Regions from separate parts of the Homo sapiens genome. Here region 2 is linked to region 1. The links come from fine-mapping of genetic effects on gene expression. Tissue or cell type: whole blood. Region 1 holds a variant in brackets; the other region holds the start of a gene. All regions are shown on one strand. Distances are from middle to middle.

Evidence for each region. PIP is the estimated chance that this variant, and not a neighbour inherited with it, causes the effect.
Region 2: it holds the start of SAP30, and the variant in region 1 is the best candidate, but not a certain one, in a credible set for the expression of SAP30 in whole blood (TOPMed, PIP 0.76).

Annotation. Positions count from the first base shown.
Region 1 is chr4:173,406,387-173,418,539 of GRCh38, forward strand. It overlaps LOC112268474 (a long non-coding RNA gene), which reads left to right. Exons shown (of 3, transcript XR_002959832.2): 3 at 1-7,694. It also overlaps a transcript of SCRG1 not described here. Among named protein-coding and RNA genes, the nearest start is that of SCRG1, 13 kb to the left of the region's middle. The variant G/T (reference allele first, on the strand shown) is at 5,075.
Region 2 is chr4:173,364,379-173,376,531 of GRCh38, forward strand. SAP30 (Sin3A associated protein 30) reads left to right here and starts at 6,576. Exons shown (of 4, transcript NM_003864.4): 1 at 6,576-7,119; 2 at 9,012-9,137; 3 at 9,561-9,659. The coding sequence starts at 6,805. SAP30-DT (SAP30 divergent transcript) reads right to left here and starts at 6,320. Exons shown (of 4, transcript NR_183973.1): 1 at 5,914-6,320; 2 at 5,056-5,232. RefSeq lists enhancers at 3,262-3,331, 5,797-6,036, 7,120-7,683, 7,387-7,686 and silencers at 6,437-6,606, 6,887-7,266.

The DNA.
Region 1 (12,153 bases):
CAGTGAGGTTGTTTCATACATGAGTAATAAAGTTAGATTGTTTTGTCACATTCTGTTTTTATCCTGGGATTGTCCAACCTCCTAAATAATTGTTAGTAATTTGCATGTATTAAGGTTCAGTCTTTGTGCTGAAAAGGTCTGTGGGTTTTGACAAGCACATAGTGTCTTGTACATACCATTACATTATGATACAGAATAGTCTCTCTGCCCTAAAATATCTCCTGTGGTTTACCTATTCAACCCTCCCCTCCCTCCTACCCTGAACTCCTGGCAGCCATTGATCTTTTTACCATCTCTATAGTTTTACCCCTTCTAGAATGTCATATAATTGGAATCATGTAGTATGTAGCCATTACATACTGGCTTTTTTCACTTAGCAATATACATTTAAGATTCATCTATGTATTTTCATGGCTTGATAATTTCTTTTTATCACTGAATAATATTCCATTGTATAGATATACCAGTTTGTTTATACTTTCACTTGTTGGAGGACATCTTGGTTGCGTACAGTTTTGGAAATTAAGAACAGAGGTGCGCGCTGGGCATGGTGGCTCACGCCTGTAATCTCAGCACTTTGGGGGGCCGAGATGGGTGGATCATCTGAGGTCAGGAGTTTGAGACCAGCCTGGCCAACATGGTGAAACCCTGTCTCTACTAAAAATACAAAAAATTAGCCAGGCATGGGGGCACATGCCTGTGATCCTAGCTGCTCAGGAGGCTGAGACAGGAGAATTGTTTGAACCTGGGAGGCAGAAGTTGCAGTGAGCTGAGATCATGCCACTGTATTCCAGCCTGGGCGACAGAGCGAGATCCATCTCAAAAAAAAAAAAAAATAGAGGTGCTGGGGCTGGATGCGGTGGCTCACGCTTGTAATCCCAGCACTTTAGGAGGCCGAGGTGGGCAGGTCACCTGAGGTCAGGAGTTTGAGACCAGCCTGACCAACATGGTGAAACTCCATCTGTACTAAAAATACAAAAATACATTAAAAAAAAAAATTAGCCGCACATGGTGGCCAGCGCCCTGTAGTCCCAGCTACTGGAGAGGCTGAGGCAGAAGAATCACTTGAACTTGGGAGGTGGAAGTTGCAGTGAGCCGAGATAGCGCCACTGTACTCCAGCCTGGGCAACAGAGTGAGACTTCATTTAAAAACGAAAAAAAGAGAGTAGAGGTGCTATAAATATTTGTATGCACGTTTTGTGTGGACATAGTTTTCAATATCTTTTTAACATTTATTTTTCAGGTCAATTAAAATCATTATTTGTAATAATCTAGCCTTTATGCAGCTTCTCAAATATAGCTATTTTAAAAATAATAAACACATTCATATAATAAATCCATTCAGAATCAGACACCATTTTGTATAAAAGTGTAAACAATGAACCTGCAATTATTTTATGGAATAAGATAACTTTAGGGCAGTTTAGCAGTATTTCATTTAACATTCTTTGAAATTTGAGCAGACCTGTGGTCTATGGAAGCTGTTTCTTTTACACTGCAAACAGGGAAATTTATAGGTGTTAAATTTGCTATAAAATTGTTCCTTTATTGCTCCTTTACTAATAAAACATTAAAAATTACATATTTGGAAATCTAAATAAAAGCATTTTCAAACTGAAATAATAAATACAACACAGTATTAGATAACTAAAACTTGCTCCCTTTATGTGTATACATATCAGATAGGACACATGAAATGCCAGGAAATAGGCAATGATGATATTTTCTCTGGATATTTAATCTCTAAACACATGAAATATATTACATACAGTATAATCCTGATGAAATATAACTTGTTATTCCAGAGGATTGGGTATGTGTTAGAGAGTCACCTATGTCCACTGAAAGTTTAAAGCATAGCAACAATTCTACGAAAAAAACCCACACCTTTCTATAACACTGTCTTCTATCAAATGACAATTTGATCAAATTAATCTTTGCCTTTAATACTAATATTCTAAATAAGCCTCCTTCTTTGGGGGTGAATTAACAAAAATTGCCCCTGGATTGTTACTACCTTACAGAATTTTTACTATGCTTCCACACTCTATGTTAGTGACTCGTGTTGATTGGTCCAGTATGGCTCAAGTGTAAATATCTTGACATTAGAAAGATTTAACAATTTTAAGTGATTTATTATGTGTCTTAAGCTATCTTATGTCTATGGTTTATTTTATGTCTTAAGTTACTTTATGTAAAATATTTGAGAAAATAGAGAAGGATAAGTATCTGAGAATGAAGGGTTTAAGAATATCACACAAGTTCAATGTCTTTCCCCTCCCCATAGAAATTTTGACCATTTTAGTGTCAGAAAATTAATGAGTCTGCTAGGCGCCGTGGCTCACGCTTGTAATCCCAGCATTTTGGGAGCCTGAGGCAGGCGGATCATGAAGTCAGGAGATTGAGACCATCCTGGCTAACACGGTGAAACCCCGTCTCTACTAAAAATACAAAAAATTAGCCGGATGTGGTGGCGGGCGCCTGTGGTCCCAGCTACTCCGGAGGCTGAGGCAGGAGAATGGCGTGAACCCGGAGGCAGAGCTTGCAGTGAGCCGAGATGGCGCCGCCGCACTCCGGCCTGGGCGAAAGAGCAAGACTCAGTCTCAAAAAAAAAAAAAAAAAAAAAAAGAAAAGAAAAGAAAAAGAAAATTAATGAGTCTAAAGCTATCTCAGCAAATAATGGGATTTTCTTTCCTGACCTAAAAGGTTCTGAGATTTCTCCATTAGAAGCCTGCCTCACTGAGAGGTGAGGACTTTTTAACCAATAAGCCTGGAGGTTTTAGGGCTTTAGTTTAGCATAAGGAATTCAGGAGAGAATCCCTGGGAATGTGATTCTCCCTGAAGCAAGTCACATGTTATGATACATTAGATGGGAGCTTCTGTGGTAGACCATGTCCCTCTTAACATTATAACAGGGGAAATCTTCCTTCTACCTCTTTTTTCATACCCCTTACCTGTGTGACAGAGGGCCCTTCAGATGCTTAGCTGCCTCTCCTATTCTAGGATCTCTTTCTGTCCTTTGATTTTCATCTTTATCTCTCTTTCTCCATGTCTCTTCCTATCCTTTTGCTCCCATGAAACTATTTGTGCTATGCTCTGTATCCTTCCAGGTTGTGACTCATGTCCCATTTGAAGCTGGAGAAGCAGCAAGATAGACTAAGATATGAATTCCCTGGATCTGCGTTGGTAGTTCCCTGCATACTTTTTTTTTTTTTTTTTTGAGACAGAGTCTCGCTCTGTTGCCCATGCTGGAGTGCAATAGCGCAATCTCAGCTCACTGCAACCTCTGCCTCCCAGGCTCAAGTGATTCTCCTGCCTCAGCCTCCTAAGTACCTGCGATTACAGTCACACACCACTGCACCCAGCTAATTTTTGTATTTTTAGTAGAGACAGGGTTTCACCATGTTGCCCAGGCTGGTCTTAAACTCCTGACCTCAAGTGATCCGTCCGCCTCGGCCTCCCAAAGTTCTGGGATTACAGGTGTGAGCCACTGCATCCAGCCTCCCTGCATACTCTTAAGTATGCCAATATTAGGTGAGTGGATATACATGTCACTGGAAAAAGAACATTTTGTGGCCTTACAATGGATGTTCTTTTCAGTATCCCCCTGACATGGCAAAACAAACTTACCGAGTGCTAAAGATCCTCCAGGAGGAAAGGGATGAAGACCTGGGGAAGGGATCTCCGTCCCATTTGAGATTCAACCTAAGTAAAACTTTCTGAAGGGCTAAGATAGCTCTGACTGAGGTCTCCCAAGAAGAGAGAGTCTGGCTCAGTGACAGGTTCAACACCAGAGCGTAGAGGTTTGTGGGGACAGCTTGTTCTAGATCCTGTGTGTAGCTGTGGTTAGAAGCCCAATTATACCCAGCCACTTTGGCAAAGCTGTCATGTTTAGGGAACAGTGGCTGATTGTGTGAGTGTAAACCCAATAAGCTGTTGTCTTGGGCGTCCATATGCACAGTGCTACCCTGCTGCCTGTGCAGTGTTCCATAGCAGCAAGGCCATTCCTACAGCAAGACAAGGACTCACTGAAGCCTGATGGAATCAGTTTTCAACAGTGACATTGTACAGAAGTTATGTTTAAAACCAGAACCTGTTAATGGACTGGTCACATGGACCACTGAAACAAGACTACTACCTTTGGACTAAGTTAATTCTCAGGTTTCTGTACAACAGAGAGAATGAAGGTTCCTTAAGAAAGAGAAACCAAATTACCTACTATATGGAGGAATGGAGGCTTAAGCAAGCAATTGGAAAAATAAAGAGAGATCCCCAAATTTTTCGTCCTAAACTGATCGAGATCCCTACAGATTATATTTAATATGCTAACTCATTGTGAATCTCTAAGAGCTGAAGGGTTTGCTAAATTTGTTTGACTACTGGACTTTTTAAAAAAAACTATATATCTCAAGAGACTGGACTCTAAGGAACACTTGTTATAATAGAAAATGCTTCTTCGGTGACAGAATTTTAGATATTAGGTCATGACAAAGGAGCAGCACATTGGGAGCAGAGGCCCTTTCCTGGCACCCACCCATATAGTTGTTTGACTGTCTCAGAGTAGACTAGTTCTGGGGTTCTGTGCTGTTAATCATGTTGCTCTAGTGACTCTAACCCAAGAAGGGCAGAGTGTGCAGTGAGACAGTGCTGAGATGGGATTCCAACTTCCTCCTTAGCTCCATCTATCATTATTAGCCTTTGAATAATGCCCACCACCTGCAATTGCTCGTTGGCTACATGAGAGTAGAGATTTCCCGTTTTATTGTTTTATGCATCCTCAGTGTCTAGAACTGTGCCAGGCACCGTTTAAGTACTCAATAACTATTTATCAAATGAATGAACTTCTGATCTAACACTGTCCTGGCAAAGACACTAAAAGCCTAACTTAGCAATTTCTTTTGTACAGTTTGTACCTTGTGGCTACAAAGATTCAGGAAGTATGAGAACAGTGATGACTTGGAACTACTAACTAGGTTTGGTGGGCCCAGTCCTCAGCAGCAAACAGTAAATAATGTTTTATTTGTAAATCAAGTGAAACCTATCTTTTCCCAGGTTGGACCAACCCAGAATGGGG[G/T]TCGGGGTTACAACCATCTCAAACCACATCAGCTGAATCACCATCCCCCTAGTTCCACATTGCTCAATCTGAGGATAAATTGCAACATATTTAGCAACCTGTATGGTGGCATATTTTAATAAATAAATGTATTTCTATAAATCAGTATATAAATAAAAATTAAAAATATTTCCTTTCTAGTCTTTAAACTATGTATCATGAAACTGTTTACAGTGTAATGTAGCTTACAAGGCAACATTTTCATCAAATCATTCTAATAATTTCTAAATCATTATTGATTTTTAGAAATTAATGGTATGGTCTTATGTTTGGTAAGCTCTCACTAAACTAAATGCTGCTTGTCTCTAAGCTACAGTTTTATGGAGGAAACTGTACTAAATGCTTCCAATGGCTTCTCCTTGTGTCGATGGTTATTAGGTGTGGTCCCAGGCATGTGCCTCAGCAGGAGAGTGATTGGGTGGGGTGCCCACTGTGTTTAGAATGCTAGCGTTTTTCACCTCATCTGTGTACCCAGAGTACTTTTGCTTCTGCCCCATCTACAACCCTGTCACTAGCCCAGCTTGTTCTGCTACTCCTGCCAACCCTGGACCCCTCCTGAGCAGCAAGTAGGCACTGTGTCTGTCTCAGCTTCCACCTTGGTCTTCTTATATCATGCTGCCCTGTCCAGATGCACCAGTCCCAAGTCCCAAAACCACTCATGCAGTGGCCACTGCATGATGTCATTTGGTGGCATGTGGTCTAACTTAAGCTACTTACCAACCATCAGGGCAGAATTTCCAGTTTCTACCTGCAGTAACATCATGCCTGTGTGTATTGGCTGAATATAAGCCATGGCCCCGTCTCTTCTGAGTAGTTCCGCAAATCTCAAGGCCATCTCTCACATTTATGTTAGAACAAGGCCATGAATGCTGTTTTCTTCTATCTCATGATCCCTACCATTTCTTCTTCTGTTTCTCACCTCAATAAAATGGCTCCCATGTTGATGCCTTGATTCCCGGAAGGAGCTACTGTTTTGCTTTGCCTCTTAACATCGCTCAGGTGATGCTGCCCTTGCTGATACTCTGTCTCTGAGCTGAAGCAGGAGAAAATCCCCTCTGTTGGCCTGAGTGGCCCATGGTCACCAGCCCAAGGCTGCCTCATGCTCTTCGTGACTTACTGCTTGCTATAATCCTGAGTCTGTGGATGATCACATCAGAAAACGCCCTCAGTTTACTGTTGCGTCCCACTGCTTCCCATCTTCTGAATTAAGACTGCACATTCTGGCTCTTTGCCTTGGGTAATCTTTTCCCCCAATAACTTGGGAGCTTTGATTCCAAGTGGCTTAGGAGAGTTGTTCTCCACACAGCTGGGTACCAGAAGCAGCCAGCTGAATGGGACCAAGGCATGAAGACTGAAAACCTCGCAGGTGACTTGGATCTTCATCCCAGGTTGAGAATCTCTAGCTTAGGAGTCTCTTTTGAGTCCTAAAGGAAATACTCAATTTCCCCCATCTGTCAGGTCCCTGCCACATCTACCGACATGTGCAATGGGATTAATTCTTAAGAAATTCATATACAGCTTAGACTGTTGCTCAGAGACTCCTGCCACTCTGTGAACCACCCCTATGGACACTGATGCACAATTTCCTTTGGGTTGATCTCATAAGTTGCATTTCCAAAAAAAAAAAAGAAAGAAAATAATAAGACCTTGACATCATAAGGAAACCACTTTTAGTTGCTCCATTTCCTGGAGCCTACAGCTGGCAAAATGCCTGGGACAAGATGTATTCAATTCAAGGCAAAGCAGAGTTGTTAGGAGAAGCAGATGGCCCACCTAAGGTGAAAAAATTACTTTCTTGTGAGGATAGGCAGGGCAGTTTATTCACCTCTTCCTCTAGGAAGGTGAGAACGTGTGGAGACAAAATAAATAAAACACATTACAAGCTCATTCCACAGATGAACAGAACAATTGGTGCTGAACAAGTCTACAGGAGGCATCTTCCAGCCTCCAGGAAAGCTGTAGGAGCTTGTCATGCATGCATTAAAGTGCCCCCAGAACTCGAAAACCATTCCATCAGAGGAGCTAATAAGAACCAACGAGTCATTGACAACAGCAACCATCAGTAACCCTCTCTGAGAGCTGGTAATGAACAGCAACAAATATTGGGGATAGTTAAGATGAGCCAGGTAAAGGTTCAGGAAAATGACTGAATAGATTACAGGCAGCAGGAACTGTGATCCATCTGAAGAAAAAGGGGAATCATGTGAGTGGATGTGTGGCAGCTAGAAAATCTGCACATATTGAGGTAAGAGGAGGCCAGGCAGTGAGAATTTGTTGTGATTATCTAACTTTCCAGAGGAGAGAGACATGTTTCTTGGTAGCTACTCATGTTCAGATTATCTAGAAAGTACATTTCATTCAGAAGTCTTCTCCAATATCTGGATGCTGCACCCCTTAAGGTTATGCAATGCTTTTGCTCTGAATCCTTGTTCACAAGCAACAACCTGATTATGAATTTGGTCTCCCAGGTACCTTGATAATGGGCAGAATGTGTCCAAGATTGAGGGAACAAGTTTGGAGATCCTTGGAAAGGCTTATTGTGTACCTGTTACAAATAAATAAATGTGGGTTTTGTTTGAGAGTTTGGTTAGCACGGGTCAGTTTCAACCTAATCACCCAGCAACACAGACAAAATCCTCTCTTGGGACCTGCATGGCTGAGGGTCAGACCCCGGAACACTTTGGCCACTCCTCTGTATTGCCATCCTGTGAGGCTCCACTGGAGCAGCCTGGGCCTTCCTCCCTGACATCTGTGCCTGTTTAAATTTAACACAATCAGCCCAGAAAGTCATCTCCTCACCAGTTTCTTTAAAATCAACAGAGGATAATTCCAAGTAATGTTTTCTGTAATGCATTCTGGAGTCTCATAGCCCTGAACCTTAGGAAACAAGTTGCATCTCACACTCTGTGAGCATCTACCCAAGTAGCAAACTCAGCTTCCTGCAGTGGTCCCTGCTGTCTTCTTCACCCTGATGGGGTGAGTCTTGGTGAGGCCACATGGTGACGTACAGGGGATCCTTAAGCAAGGAGTTGGAAAGGAAAGGTTACGCTGCCAAGCACAGCTCCAACCCAGAGCCCTCATGCCCTCTTGATCATGTCGTTTGAATGGGGGATGGCTTAGGTTAAATGAAGAAAGGGGTGGGTGTTCTCATCTACAAGAGCAGAACTAGAAGGGTGCTTCTTGTCAGCTGTGTTCACAGCAGCTGTGGCTGGGTGCACAGCTTTCCCCATTTTTCCACTGTTGAAAAGAGTGTGTGCTTCTGTGGCTGGTGCTGGCATTCTCATCCCTGACTCTTGTAAAGGTGCAACATCATCACTTCAAGCACTCTCTCTTAGTTTTCTCCTCCCTAGGGTGTGAATAGTTGACATCGTGCACTCCTTGGTGGGCACTGCGTGCTTGCTTGCTATAGGACACTTGTTCACTGGTATTTTGGTAACCAGTAGTTTTTGCCTGTCTCCAGAATAAGAGGGAAGCAGCAGTGACCCAACTCTGGAAATTATCTACCAGGCTCACATCCCATATATTGCCCTATATCCCTTGAAAACAGCAAATTTATATGCACAATAAAAGCGTTAATATTGCATGTTAATTTCTTCTTCCCCCAAATTGGAGAGTTGGCAGAAGGACTAATAAAGATGACTAGTGTGAATAGTCTCTCAAAATAGTCATTTCATAAATTAAATAGGAGATGCATTCACTGCAGCTGAGATTTATGAAAGTTCTGTGAGGTGGCAAAACAGGGTTTGCAATTCAGGATTTTATTGCCCTTAGGGGCTGTGGCTAATCTGTTGTGAAGTGAGGTTTCAGTTGGGTAAAGATTGAGTAACTAGAACAGAGATGCATTGTGTAACCCCCGTTTCCTTTTTATTTCTTGCGGACCAGTGAATATCCTAAGTCCCAAACTGTACGCCAGCTTAGTAGATTTAATTTTTGAGTGTTTTGTATCATGACAGCTCAGCATTTCTTGCAAAAAGTGGCCCCAGATAACCATGGCCATTATATCAGTCTCTGTGCTGATGCTGAATTTGTCTGACAGACTCACACAGGGGCCTCCAAATAGCCTTTTCTTTAAAGGGAAAGAGAACTGGCATTTACCAATTACTTAGTCTGTCTCCAAACGACCTTTATTTCTCATGGCAAATCTGTGACATTGGTATTACAGGTATTTCACCTTTGTTCTGGATAGGATTGAGGCTCAGAGAAACCAAATAGCGTGCCCAAGTTACTTAATTAAGAACCTTAGAAGCCTAAAACAAACATGATCTCTTCTGGTCAGTTTTATACAGGAGAAGTGAGGTTTCAGGATTTAAACCAGGCCTATCTGCCTCCAAATCCATTGCTCCTTCCACTGTGCTGTGTGGCTGCATGAACACACCAAGAGCTGGAGAAATGACATAGGGTCTTAAAGCACCACCAATAAAATCATGCGAAAGAAAACATATTTTGAAAAAAAGGCTGATTGTCATATTGAAGCGCCCCACTGGCAAGTCTCTAGGAGGCCCTGGTAAGACCAGCATGTGCGCCTCGGGGTGTTTTGAGTACCTGGGAGGGCAGGGGCCGTGCAGTCTCCTCTCCCGCAGTGTAGATGAGCCAGGGAGGGACAGCAGCAATACTGCCGCCCCAAAGTCATCTGCCCACTTCCAGTCAGAGGCCCTAACGTTTTCCTAGTTATCTGAGTGTCATCTCTTACGATGACTTATCCTGCTCAAAGCCTCTTTATTTAAACATTTGCCAAGTGGGAGGGATTCTGTCCCGACAACGGCCTCCTCATTTCCATGCTCACTCCCAACGCACGGCTCAGACGCCTGTGCGCAGATCCTGTCTGCCATAAGAACCTCCCAAACGATGCTCCCCGCTGCCAGCCACTCCTTGTGCCCATCTTGTGGCTGCTAGATATATCGTCCTACAGCACAGCTCCGATGATCTCATACCTCTGCTCAAAAGGAAGGAAGTTTCCAAATTTCAAACTCCAGTGCCAGGCGCGGTGGCGCGCCTGTGGTCCGGGTGACTGAGGAGACTGAGGTGGGAGGATCGCTTAAGCCCAGGAGTTGCAGGCTGCAGGGAGCTATGATTGCATCACTGCACTCCAGCCTGGGCAACAGAGTGGGACCCCGTCTCTTAAAAATAATAAAAATAAATTATTTTAATTGTAAAAGTTTGAAACCAAATTTCAAAGTCAAACCTAGAAAGCGTCTGGGGCTATCCCCCGGCTCCTGGGGCCCTCTCCCTTCGTGTGACGGCCTCTAGGACTAGCGTGCTTGGTTTGTTTTTGGAAGCCATTTCCTCAGAGTGATGGTTTCTGAGGAACCATCAGCTGCAAGAGTTCTGCTTTATAAGAATATACACATAAGAAGAAAATAGAAATAGCCTAGAACTCTCCGGATTTCATCACATCATCACACACACACCCAAACACACACACACACACACACACACACACACACACACACACACAGTCACATCATCACACACACCACACACACACCCCACACACAATCACATCTTCACACACACCCCACACACAATCACATCTTCACACACACCCCACACACAATCACATCTTCACACACAACACAAACACAATCACATCATCACACACAACACACACACACACAGACACACACAGACAGAGAGACACACACAGACAGACAGACACACACACACAGAGCCTTTGTCTTTTTACATTTAGTTGTTATTTAGCGCCACCTGGTGTTAAAACTAAACAGCACCTCTGGAGAAAAAACAAGCATCTACAGGCATGTTTTACCCCAAATTGAGGATCTTTAGCACTGGAAGGAACCTTAGAGATCATTTAGACAGATGCCTCATTTTATAGATTAGGAATGTATGCAGATTTAGAAACAGAATTGAATCCATAGTTCTTGAATTCTAGACTCCTCAATTTTCCAGCATGCCCCAGTTGCCCCCTAAGCCTCCAAAGGAATTGGGCTAGAGGGATGCCACCTTTGGAAAAAGACAAAAAAAGAATACTAGCATTTACTGATCCTTTATTATAAGCCAGTTATTGTGCTAAATGCATTTACAGACATGACCTCATGATCTCATTTCTTCTTCATAACTAGTCTCCCTCCCTCCCTCCCTCCTTCCTTCCTTCCTTCCTCCCTTCCTTCATTCCTTCTTTTTTTTCAGAGAGGAGGTCTTGCTCTGTCATCCAGGCTGGAGTGCTGTGGTGTGATCAGAGCTCACTGCAGCCTTGAACTCCTGGGCTCAAGCGATCCTCCCACCACCTCAGCCCCACAAGTAGCTGGCACTACAGGTGTGAGCCACTGCAGTAGGGTGATCTTATTCTTGTTCCGCAGATGAACAAAGTAAAATTCAGAGACCTGCAACACACCTTGGACCTGCAAGTAATTTTATGTCTGTGTTTCTATAAGGACCTGTTCATTCCAGTTGTCTCAGTGGTCAGTGTGGATTGCCACATGAATAATTTGGTGGTGGCTTAAAAAACAAATATTTACTTCTTGCTCATGTTTCATGATAAATGCAGGTTGACTGTGGGTCAGCTATAACTCTGATGGGCTCAGCTTGGCTGGATGAATAATTTGGTGGTGGCAATTGGCATAGATCCCAAAAAATAAAAGATAATGAGGAGCTCAGTAAGGTCATATTGTATTATTTGTTCACAATTACTCATTCCTTCCTTGCCTTTTCCATACTTCTGTGCAGGCAGAATACATTGCCCTCCCTGCATTGACCTTGGACTTGGCCACTTTCTTTTGGTTAATAAAATGTGTGTGAACTTGATATTTGCTGCCAGAGCAGAAGCTTTCAGTGGTGTGGTTTGGTGAGACCTGCTTCAGCCTTGACCTCCCCCGTGAGAACAGCACACCTTAGAGAGTTGCTCTTCCTTCAGTCCTGGCTCCTGGAAGGAGATGATAATTGTGGCTGAGCCAAATCCAGCACAGCTGAGCCCATCAGAGTCACAGCTGACCCACAGTCAACCTGCAGCCCTCATGAAACATAAGCAAGAAATAAATAGTTTTTAAAACCATTGAGAATTTGGTGTTGTTTGTTGCTGC
Region 2 (12,153 bases), 42 kb before region 1:
CATACATACAACTTGATTTATGACAAAGGTGACACTGTAAAAGAATGGAATATGGATAGATTTTCCAGTGAATGGTACTTGGTCAAATGGGTAGCATATACAAAATAAAATTGTACCTCAACCACTGTGCACAAAAATCAATCATAATCTTAAATGAGAAAGGCAATACAATGAAGCTGTTAGAAGATAATGTAGAAAAATATCTTCATGATTTGGGGATAAGGAACTTACTTAAGTCACAAAAATCATCAGTCAGAAAAGAAAAGATAGATATATTTTTTCCTCATTAAAAGACTTTAAACAAAAGTTGCCACTGCAGAGTCAAAAGGCAAATTATGAAGTAGGCAAAGATGTGTGCAATATGTAAAATTGTGAAAAGGCTGTTATTCAGAAAACATGAATAACTACTACAAATCAACAGAAAAAGACACAATCCCAATAGAAAAATAGGCAAAAGACCTAACTAGGAACTTCCAAACGAGAAATCCAAAAGACCAATTAATATATAATCTCATTAGTAACTAAGAATGTTCAAATTAAAATCACAATTAGATACCATACATACCTACTTGATCTTTTTTAGAAAGTACAATATCAAATGGTAGGCAAAGATACAGAACTCTCATATATTGCTTAAGGAAGTGTAAAAGTTTGGAAATATCTAGTAAAGTTGAATCTACGCCTACCTTAAAACTCAGCAATTCTGTTTACATATGTAAGCAAGGAGCTGGAAGTTCTCACTCCAACTTAACAACATATATATCTTACTGACCTGCAGTCACGTATGTATCAGGATACATGTACAAGAATAAGAATGTTCATGGCAACATTCTTTTAATAGCCCTAAACGGGAAACAATCCATATGTCTATCAACAATAGAATGGATATATTGTAGTTTATTCATACCATAATGAAGAGAAAGAATTAAACTACATAAAAGTAGACCTTTGAAAAACAGAGTAAATGAACCCAAAGAAAACAGAATATAAAGTATATGAGTCCACTTATATAAAGTTCAAAAACAGCAAAACTGAAAAAAAAAGTTGAAGAACTATGTGGCAAAACTGTAATGAAAAACGAGGTAACAAATACCATAAAAGTCAAGATAGCTACTCCTGCTAGCTGGGAGATGGGATTTATGATGAAGAAGTGGCAGGTGATGGCTTTCTGGCATGTTGTCAATCAGGGCCATCTACATAATTTGTGGTGTCCAGAACAAACATCTTTTTTCTCTCCCTCCCTCTCTTTCTCCTCACATGGTGTTTTCTTATTTGCTATTTAATGTGGCACTCCCTTGGGCACAGGTGGAAAACTGACCCAAAGGAGCTAGGGGCCTGACTCCTGGTTCAGAGGAAATGGGGAGGATCCTGCACCTCAGCCAGACACTTCCTGCACCGTACCTCCTGCTCAGCCTCTGCCAGAGCAGAGGGTGGGGTGGGGTGGAGTGGAGAGAGTGAGCAGCCAGAACTCATTCTGGGGAGGAAGGGAGGTGGCAGGAGGCCCATGTTGCCTGAATCAATGCATTGTCCCATTGATACTTCACTGATAAAACACAAATTCAAAGATAAAATTATTGAGAATTACATGATGGTGATTGCAGGGCATTAAATGTCAAGCAGGAAGGAGGAGGAGAGTGGAGCATGTTGGCTTCTGAGCTTGGGGTCCTGTGCCACTGCAAGTCCCTGAAGCTGGCCCTTTCAGCAATGTTCTCTTTCCTGACCTGGGTAGCAGTTATACGGATGTGCATTTTACCATAACTGCTTGTCTCCGTTCATTTGTGCCGCCATAACAAAATAGTTGAGACTCAGTAATTTATAAAAACCAGAAATTTATTTTCTCAAGGTTCTGGAGGCTGAGAAGTTCAAGATCAAGATTTGATCTTGGTGTCTGGTGGAGGCTGCTCTGTGCTTCCAAGATGGTGCCTCTTGCTGCATCCTCACATGGTGGAAGAGATGGAAGGGGTAAACTCGCCCCCTCTATCCCTTTCATAAGGCGCTAATCACATTCATGAGGGTGGCCTCACCACCTCCTAAAAGCCCCACCTCTTAGTACTGTTGCATTGGGGATTGAGTTTCACAATGAATTTGGGAGGGGACACACACAAACACTGAAACCACAGCACTGCTTAAACTGGACATTCATGCTTTATACAATTTTCTGTATGATGGCTGAGTTTAAAACTAGATAAAGGAAAGGTGGTGTAAAACGGAATGAACTTTTGCTGTAAAATATAGAATTATTCACATATAGAGATGTATATACTAGTAAATGCATACTTTTTTCTAGAAGGAAACAATAATCTGTTAACACTGGTTGCTTCAAGGGACAGGGATTTGAGGAGATGAGGTAAAACAGGCTTTTGTTTTTCATATGAACCTTTTTGTATTATTTGAATTTTCTACTGTGGTCATGTTGGGATTATTGGCCAATTTATATGTTTTTGTAAATTAAATAAAATTATTTAGTTGCTTATTTTAAAGTAAAGCCAGAAAAATGCAATCATGTTAAAAGCCTATAGGGAAGACAGGCACGGATACATACTTTTTTAAGAATCATATTTTGAACCATTTTAGAAAGCAAAGAGCATTTTTGTTGATATGAACAACCCCCCTATAATTAAGGTTTCATAGATCTATATTTTTTACCTAGTCTACTCTGAGGTAGATTTACTGTGAAGCTAAAGGATTCAAACTTCAGAGTCCCTCACTTGGATAGACCCTTATGAAGTCCTGTACCTAATTTTAATTTTGCATTCATAATTTTACATACTTCTTTAAAAAGACCTTTCAGATTATATAATCTTGAAGCCCCCCTAAAACCTGATTCCAACCTTGACTGTGAGTTACACTCAAATCAAAGAGTTCTTATACCTGCCCTAAATATGAAGATTTGTAGAAATAAGTAACAAAACATGGTTGTAAAAATGTATCTAAACAAATAGATTCACTCAAGATACACTTTAAATCTGGCAGTGAGAATTAACATGTCCCCTACTCCAGCAATCTTTTCAACTTGCCAGAAATGAATCATTTCCTCCTATGTGCTATGCCTGTACTTTCTCTCTATTGTTATTGAGGTTTGTATTATGTGCTTGTTAAGCTACCTGTCTGCCCTACTAGACAAGAAGCTCCCAAATAGCTAGGACCCTCTCAATTATTTTTGTGCCTCCAGGGCCTAGAAAAAGATTCTAGCATGCAACAAGTGACTGTTTAATAGGATCTTTTTACAACCATTGTATTGTGTGTAAAGGAGCCATAGCTACAGTTCTTTACTTGAGTAAGCTTCATATGAAACTGATAACTATACATATACATACATGCACAGCTTAAGGAGATTCACAAAGTACTTATCAGTAAGCATCTTTCTTTTTCCTACTGAATTTACATGATTTGGTCACATTTTGCAGAAGATATAAGCTTTTTTAAGCACAAGAACCAAACAATATGAATTTCATGAACTATTTTAAAAACACATAAATGTACAAAGAAAAATATGAAAATTCAACATCCCACTGTCATGTTTCAGATATTTTTAATAAATAAAAACTTTAAAATTCAGAAGAAACCATCTTTAAGCCATTCCCAGTGTGAAAATTGATCATACAATCTGGATCATTCTTGTCATACCCAACTAAATCAGAATCGAGGGACCAGGGGAGAAAGCAATCAGGGCACACAGCTCTAGCATTAAGAATTAAGTTTTTTACAACCCAGCTGCTGAAACGGCCTGCAGTAACTCTAAGACCAGTTTTACCGAGTAGTTGCTGAAACAATCTCCTATGACTAAGACTGGTTTTATCTACCACTCTCACTCACCAATCAGAGCTTGCCAGCTTCCCAAAACTTTACTATAGTGCCAATGAACCTTCTTTCAAAACAGTAGCAACATTTCTCTTTCTAATAAAACTCTCGACCTTCTCTTTGTTCTTCTGACATACTAAAGACCACTCAGTCTGTGTGTATGTCCTGAACTGCAATTCTTGCTTCCCCAAAAAACCATTAAATTTAGAAATTCATCTCTTTATATTTTATGTTTACTCTGACACCATATACAAATTCCTTGGCCTCCTTCGTTGGAGATGAGCATCACCCTGAAGTTGGGATGTATCATCCCATCCATATATTCTCATTTTTACCACTTAAGAAAATGTATCCATAAATATATAACATGTATCCATAAATATATAATTATTCTGTGTTGTAATTTTTTTTTTTTTTTGAGACAGGGTCTCGCTCTGTTGCTCAGGCTGGAGTGCAGTGGTGCAATCTCAGGTCACTGCAACCTCTGCCTCCTGGGTTCAAGCAATTCTCCTCCCTCAGCCTCCCAAGTAGCTGGAACCCCAGGCTTGTGTCACCATGCCTGCCTAATTTTTGTATTTTTAATAGAGACGGAGTTTCACCATGTTGGCCAGGCTGGTCTCGAACTCCTGACTTCAGATGATCCACCCTCCTCGGCCTCCCAAAGTGCTGGGATTACAGGCGTGAGCCACCACGCCCTACTGTGTTGTAATACTTTAAGCCAGTGTTATCTAATGCAACAGGTACAATTTATTGTAATATTTTGTTTAACCCATTACATCCAAAACATTTAAACATATATAAAAATTTTTAATGTGCACTTCAATATTCTTTTTGAAAATTTCTTGTAGTAAGTCCAGAAATAAAAAAAAAGTCCAGCTGATATATACTTACAGCACATCTCAATTCATATGCTAAAGTTAGAGTTCATAAAATTTAAGTTGGAAAAACAGATTCATATATCTGAGTTGTTGCAAACACACTTAAAAGTATTCCAACAATTGAATCGAGCATCAGGTTTTTGGTTTTTGTTTAATTCAAATTCAATTAACGATTCAGTTTTTCCGTCTCAACCACATTTCAAGTGCTGAGTAGCCACATATGGCTAGAGGACAGCCTACTGGACAGCACAGCTTAAGGAGGTACACAATGTACTTATCAGTCATCATCTTTCTTTTTCCTACTGAATTTACGTAATATTTAAATTGTTTTTCTTTGTCATATCCTAGAACTCAAACGCACAGATACAATGGATACCTTTGATTTTCTGCGTCGATGGCATTTTGCATTTAAAAAGATCATCTGGGTGGGGTGGCGCGCGTCTGTAATCCCAGCTACTCGGGAGGCTGAGGCAGGAGAATCGCTTGAACTCGAGAGGCGGAGGTTGCAGGATCGCGCCACTGCACTGCACTCCATCCTGGGCGACAGAGCAAACTGTCTCAAAAGAAAAAAAAATCATTTATCACTAAATTTACTCACCAAAAGAACTTGCAAAAAAAAAACCCAAAACCCTACTGCCTAAAATATATTTTAAAACGTATTTGTGTTTAAGCAGCATATATCTTTTGATAAATAATGACGCATGGTAGCTAACTAGTAAAGATGCAGCTTTCATATTAGCCACGCCCATCCCTCTCTCCGCCCTCCACAAGCACGTCCCCGCAAGCGCGCAGGAACATACACGCGTACGCGCGCACACACACGTACACACGCGCGCGCCCGCGAACACATACATACAAGCAGGCGCGCCCAAACGCCGGCAGCACACAGGCGCGCACGCGCTTTTCAGGACTCAGGAAATGCGCTTTCTGCTCCCCGCGCCCGGTAGAGCTAATGCAGGGAAGTTTCTGGGAACATTCGACCAGCGTTTGTATTGGTGAGGTTCCAAGTTTCCTTTAAAATGATATGACTCCGCCCTTCTCCAAAACCGTTTGAGGAGAAATGGAAAAGGTTGGGCGTGGAGGTGAAAAGGAGCCCTGTTGTCAACTGGTCCGTACTCCACCTCAGGAGGCGGCCAACTTGGTGCGCCCAAGAATAAAAACATTTCCCTTGTAAGAACATGCAAGTGTTTAGAAACGCCCCCCCACCCCCCCGCAAGGCGTTTGTGAGGGGGACCTGTCACAGTTGAGAAGTCAGGATGGGCGTTTTCCTCCCAGGAGGTGCCCTATTAATTTGCGGCCTCGATAGTTGGTCAAGCCGGGATGTTAGCTGCGGAACCTCCAGGACCGAAGAGCGCCAATTCTCCTGAGTTCTCCTTGGTTTGGGTTTCCCACAAAAGAGTGGTCACACCAAAAACTCTGTCTCCACAAATGCGAAACGGGCTCGAAACTTTTTTTTCCCCACACGATCACTTCCCACACCACTCCCATCCCTTTATGTTTCGCCTCAGGAGTCGAGGAACTTCTCTGAAAACCAATTCTACGATATTCCAGCAGCTAAACACAGCCCGAATTCCCTAGAAACAGAGAGAGCGAGAGAAAACACTGTAAACCCCAATCACACGCTCCTGTTTTCCCGGTACTGAAAAAAAAAAAAAAAAAAAAAAGTGGGTCCGTGGCCGCGCTATGCATGCTAGGATTAGTAGTTCCTCCGTCCCTCATGGCGCGGGGTCAGGGCGGAGCTCAGGTTGACTCTGCAGCAGAGAACTACAATTCCCATGGGGCCGCGCGGCAGAAAGAAAGGGGCGGGACGGGAGGGGGCGCGTCGCGCTTGCGCAGGTCCCGGGGCCGGAGGGAGGCGGAGGCGTAGCGGTCCAACTGCTGAAGTCCCCATGTGACAGTGAGCGGGGTCCCCGCTCCAGGAGACGCTCGAGTCTGCGTCCCGGCCCTCAGCACTGTCCACTGTTTCGGTGCCAGCAGAGACCAGCAGGCCCGGGACAGTTGGTGTTTGGCCGTGCCGCTGTCTAACTTGGTGTGCAGAGTGAATTGCCGCTGCCGGAGCGGAGAGAGGCGGAGCGGCCAGGAGAGAGGGGATTTCTGTCAGCGCCGGCCTCGGGAGCTCGGAGACATGAACGGCTTCACGCCTGACGAGATGAGCCGCGGCGGGGATGCGGCCGCCGCAGTGGCCGCAGTGGTCGCTGCCGCGGCCGCCGCCGCCTCGGCGGGGAACGGGACCGGCGCGGGCACCGGGGCTGAGGTGCCGGGCGCGGGGGCGGTCTCAGCGGCTGGGCCCCCGGGGGCGGCCGGGCCGGGCCCCGGGCAACTGTGCTGCCTGCGGGAGGATGGTGAGCGGTGCGGCCGGGCGGCAGGCAACGCCAGCTTCAGCAAGAGGATCCAGAAGAGCATCTCCCAGAAGAAGGTGAAGATCGAGCTGGATAAGAGCGTAAGTAAACCGCGGGACCGCCCTGCCCTCCCGCCCCTCGGTGGGGCCCCAGGAGCCGGGCAAAGGCACGGGTTGTCGGCGGGGTCCCCCAGACAACCGCACTGGCTGCAGTGCGGTCTCGTGGAGTCTGTGTTTGGAAGCAAATAACAAAGTCGCTGCAACTCCTACCGCCACCCCAACACACACACCACACACAGGCTGTCGTTCCCCTCTTCTTTCCCACCCTGGCCCCCAACCTCCCGCTGCCTGCGTCTCTCCCGCGCAGTCTTCCCTCTTCCTTCTCCTCTGCGACCGGGACACGAAACAAAGGGGACCGGCGCACTGAGGGCCCAGAGTAGTTTTCTTGCAGCCCGGCAGCTCTTCTGGAATGGAGGCGCCTTTGTTTTGCTGCCCAAGCTGGTGTTTGGCCCCAGGCGGTACTAAATCCCGTCGTCTAGGAGAAAGCGGAGGACCTTCACGAACAAGGAAGATCCTGTTCTTTTCTGTGTTCCGTCTCCTCCGGAGCGGAGTGAGAGGGAAGCCGAGCTCACCCGCCGCCTGGCAGTGAGCCGGGGTTGTAAACGGCGTTTGCGCTGTCAGCTCCGAGGGCAGCTACTCCGATGGTGGGGAGCACGTAGCCTCTGCGGTTTTGCCATCCCCTTGGCAGCCATCAGGATTTTTTGCACGTCTTTTCGTTTGACCATCTATGAGGTTTTTAGAAACAGCCGTTGCTACTTTTGGGAGATCTGGCTAGCGGTAAATGAATAACATGGTATCGAGAACCTACCACAAGTCCTGCATATTTTTATCTTGCGCTTGGCTTAGAAGTAAATGTAAAAGCCTGTTAGCTCAGTCCGTGTTTGTTTCAAATGCTAGTCTACAGCTCGCAGGAGTATATGTAATTAAAGTTTTTGAAAAGTTTATTTGTGACACTTTTTGCCCGTTTAAACAGTTTTCAGTGTTATCCATGAGAAACTCTTCAGGTGAACTTGCATAATTTCAGATTGTTTTGGAAAAATGTGTTATAGATAAATACATTGATTTAATATTCAGAAAAATGTATAACTGAAATTTAAATATAGTTTTGAAGTCGATGGCTCATTTGTGAAAACGAATGGTTTTGTATCTGGACTATAATTTGGGTATTCAGTTAGAAAGACTGGAAAGCATACATTATATTACTAAAATATGCTGTTCTTTTAAGTAGAGAAAGTACTGTCAAGTAGCAAAACTGTGAGCAACATCATCTTTCCCCTCATCAGTTAAAAATTCAACATGAACTAATTCAGGTCATCCTTACTGCTATCTGTTTGTTTATTTATTTAAGACAAAGTCTCACTCTGTTGCCCAGGCTGGAGTGCAGTGGCGCGATCTCGGCTCACTGCAACCTCCAACCACCAGGTTCAAGTGATTCTCCTGCCATAGCCTCCTGAGTAGCTGGGATTACAGGCTACTGCCACCATGCCCGCCTAATTTTTTGTATTTTTAGTAGAGACGGGATTTCACTATGTTGGCCAGGCTTGTGTGGAACTCCTGAGCTCAAGTGATCCACCCGCCTTGGCCTCCCAAAGTGCTGGGATTACAGGCGTGAACCACCGCGCCCAGCCCCTCACTGCAATTTGATGACAAAACCCAGAGGGTTGGAATTTCTCATTCTCCTCTCCCTCCCTCCCTTACCCCCTTCCCCAGATGGAACCAACCCCTCCTTCCCCATCCACCATCCTTTTAACAGTATTCCAGACATCTTATGTTTTAGCGTATAGGATTTAAACGTATAAATATTCCATTATCTTAACAATGGCCCATCTTGGCTGTCTTTATTTTTAAGAACTCACTGTGGCATATGTGTTTTACTAATACATAGACACATTTTACTGTAATCATAAGCAGTGTGTAAAACTTTTCTGTTTCAGGCAAGGCATCTTTACATATGTGATTATCATAAAAACTTAATTCAGAGTGTTCGAAACAGAAGAAAGAGAAAAGGGAGTGATGATGATGGAGGTGATTCACCTGTTCAAGATATTGATACCCCAGAGGTAGATGGAAGTTTTTTATGCTTAATGTAAATCCTAAGTAGTGCATTCTGAAGCCTTTATAAAAAGATATGAACAATCTTTTAAGTGTTTAAAACATTTGAGAAATCTGAAAATGAAAGCAAAATTAAATATAGCCAGTTGACATGCATTTACACAGTTTGAATTGTTACATTTTAGATTGACAATTTTTGCAGCTCTGTTGTCACATAACTTACTCTTTTTTTGACCTCAGTTTATATTATTTATCCCCAAAAGATTAAATTCTTTAATAATTTATGTTGGATTATATAAATTTTTTAAATTTTTTTTGATTTTGGAAGTAAATTTTATTGTGCTGAAGTTAAAATGTTTGTTATTATACATATCAATGATAAATTTTCAACAAATTGTATGAACTCATTTATACATGTTAATTTTTTCTAGGTTGATTTATACCAATTACAAGTAAATACACTTAGGAGATACAAAAGACACTTCAAGCTACCAACCAGACCAGGACTTAATAAAGCACAACTTGTTGAGGTATATATGAGTTTTAAACTATTTGAACTATCTGCACAACCGAGAGGTTATTAAGTGCTAATGGAAGTTTTAATGTAGTGTATGTAACAGTACATTTTAATTAGAAAGAACAAAGTTAAAAAATCTGTTGTGGAAGAATCTAGTTGTGTAGAAATGTTTGTCTGCCACTTAGGAAATTCCTTTTTGTAATGACTGCTTAGTAGATTGTGTACAGCACCTTCTGATACTGGCTTTCAAAATGTGTTGATTGTTTTTTGAGACAGAATCTCACTCTGTCACCCAGGCTGGAGTGCAGTGGCATGATCTTGGCTCATTGAAACCTCTACCTACCAGGTTCAAGCAATTCTCCAGCCTCAGCCTCCCAAGTACCTGGGACTTCAGGTGTGCACCACCACACCAGGCTAATTTTTGTATAATATTTTTAGTAGAGATAGGGTTTCACCATGTTGGCCAGACTTGTTTCAAACTCCTGACTTCAAGTGATCTGCCCACCTCAGCCTACCAGAGTGCTGGGATTACCAGTGTGAGCCACCGTGCCTGGCCCTCAAAATGTTGAATGAGAGTTTTTTTAATCCTCACTTTAGAAATCTATTAATTTTAAAACTCCGTTTAACCAGTAAACATTTGAGCACCTAATTGAGGCATAATAAAATTAATTAACAAGCTTTAATGTCCTTATTAGAATTTATATTTTAAAGTGGTGGAATAGGCCTACAAATCAGACCCTAAACAGTATTTTTATAATTTGCTGACTTAACTATTTCAAAATTTGTCCTTGTTGATGTTTGTTTTATTAGAGACATCCATGTTTTTTTCACATCTAGAAGAGGCAAAAGCTTTTCTTTTACCCAAGCTTTTACTTGTAGTTTGCTTTGATAGAGGACTTCTAGTCAGTCACTGAGTTGTGAAAAGTTAACGGAGCATGCATATGTTTTCAGGATATAATAGAACCAAGAAATCTGTGCATCTTATTAAGATGTTTATAGATTTATATATATATATTTTAATCATATTTAAAATAAAAATTTTTACTTGCAGCTACTGAGGAGGATTGATTAAGCCTAGGAGTTTGAGTCACCATGGGCAACATAGCAACACTCCATCTCTAAAAAAAGAAAATTTGGCCTACTAGACAAAATAGAAGTGTAGAAATATAAATCAGTTTTCTCATATTCTTTGCATGGATTTAGTAGTTACCCAACATTTTCTAAAATGTGCCTATTGAATAAAATGAAATATGAATAGAAGTTACATTTATTTGGCAGAATGCTTTTTAACATTGTTAAAATCTAATATATTAACTATTTAGCTAAAATTTTTTATCCTTGGTTGGGCAACACAGATCTAATTAATTTTTCTTTAATTTTGATTTAAAAGATCAAGTTCTTTTGGGGTTGTACAATACATTAATGTAACATAAATATAGTTATTGCCCACCATGATGAAATATTTCAATAGGTACTAATGGAGTGAAGGCACCCCTGTTTTGGGACAAATGAGAACCAAAGAACTGATTATTTTAAATGTTATATTTAGGTATAAATTAAACCTGTAATTTTTGATAAACTGACCTTCTAAGAACAGTTATATTATTTCCAGAGCTATTTTCTTTTTTATACATAAGAGATAGCCATGAGTGTTATATTTTACTTAATCAGAAATGCAGATATTAGCAAGTTAAGGAATGTGCAGATGTAGTACATATATTTTAAGAGAGGGGTCCCCAACCCCAGGGCCATGGACTGGTACTGGTTGGTGGCCTGTTAGGAACGGGTCCGCAGAGCAGGAGGTGAGCACCAGCTAGCAAGCATTACTGCCTGAGCTCCGCCTCCTGTCAGATCAGCCACAGAATTAGATTCTCAGAGGAGTCCAAACCCTCTTGTGAAGTGCACATGTGAGGGATCTAGATTGTATGCTTGTTATAAGAATCTAATGCCTGATGATCTGAGGTGGAACAATTTCATACCAAAACCAACTCCGCCACCCTCAATCTGTGCAAAAATTGCCTTCCGTGAAATCTATCTCTGGTGCCAAAAAGGTTGGGGACCACTGTTTTAAGGGAATCCAGGGTTGTATGACTAAGTCTTAAGTCTCTTAATTATTGTGTGGATGAACTTTTTTCTTAAGAAATTTTATTTTCTGGAATCTAAATATGCATGTCAGCACCCCAGGTAAGTCTATTATTCTTCTATTAGTAATTGTAGTATGCATGTTATGTTAGCACAATGAAAAAGCAAGGAAGCAGGTAAACATCCTTCATTGAACATCCCTCTTTCTCCTCTCATTTCCATTCATAATTTTTATTCAGAAAAATTTTCAAGGAACCTTAACCAAAGAATGCTACCAAGGTGTGAATGAATGAATATAATTTGCAGCAAACAATTTATATGTTATTGTTGGTTTCTCTACTAGCAAAAGTTTTCAACTTCATACTTCTTTTTCTATCAGTAGAGTCTAAACCATTGCAGGTTTAATGATGCATGTGATCTCTTAC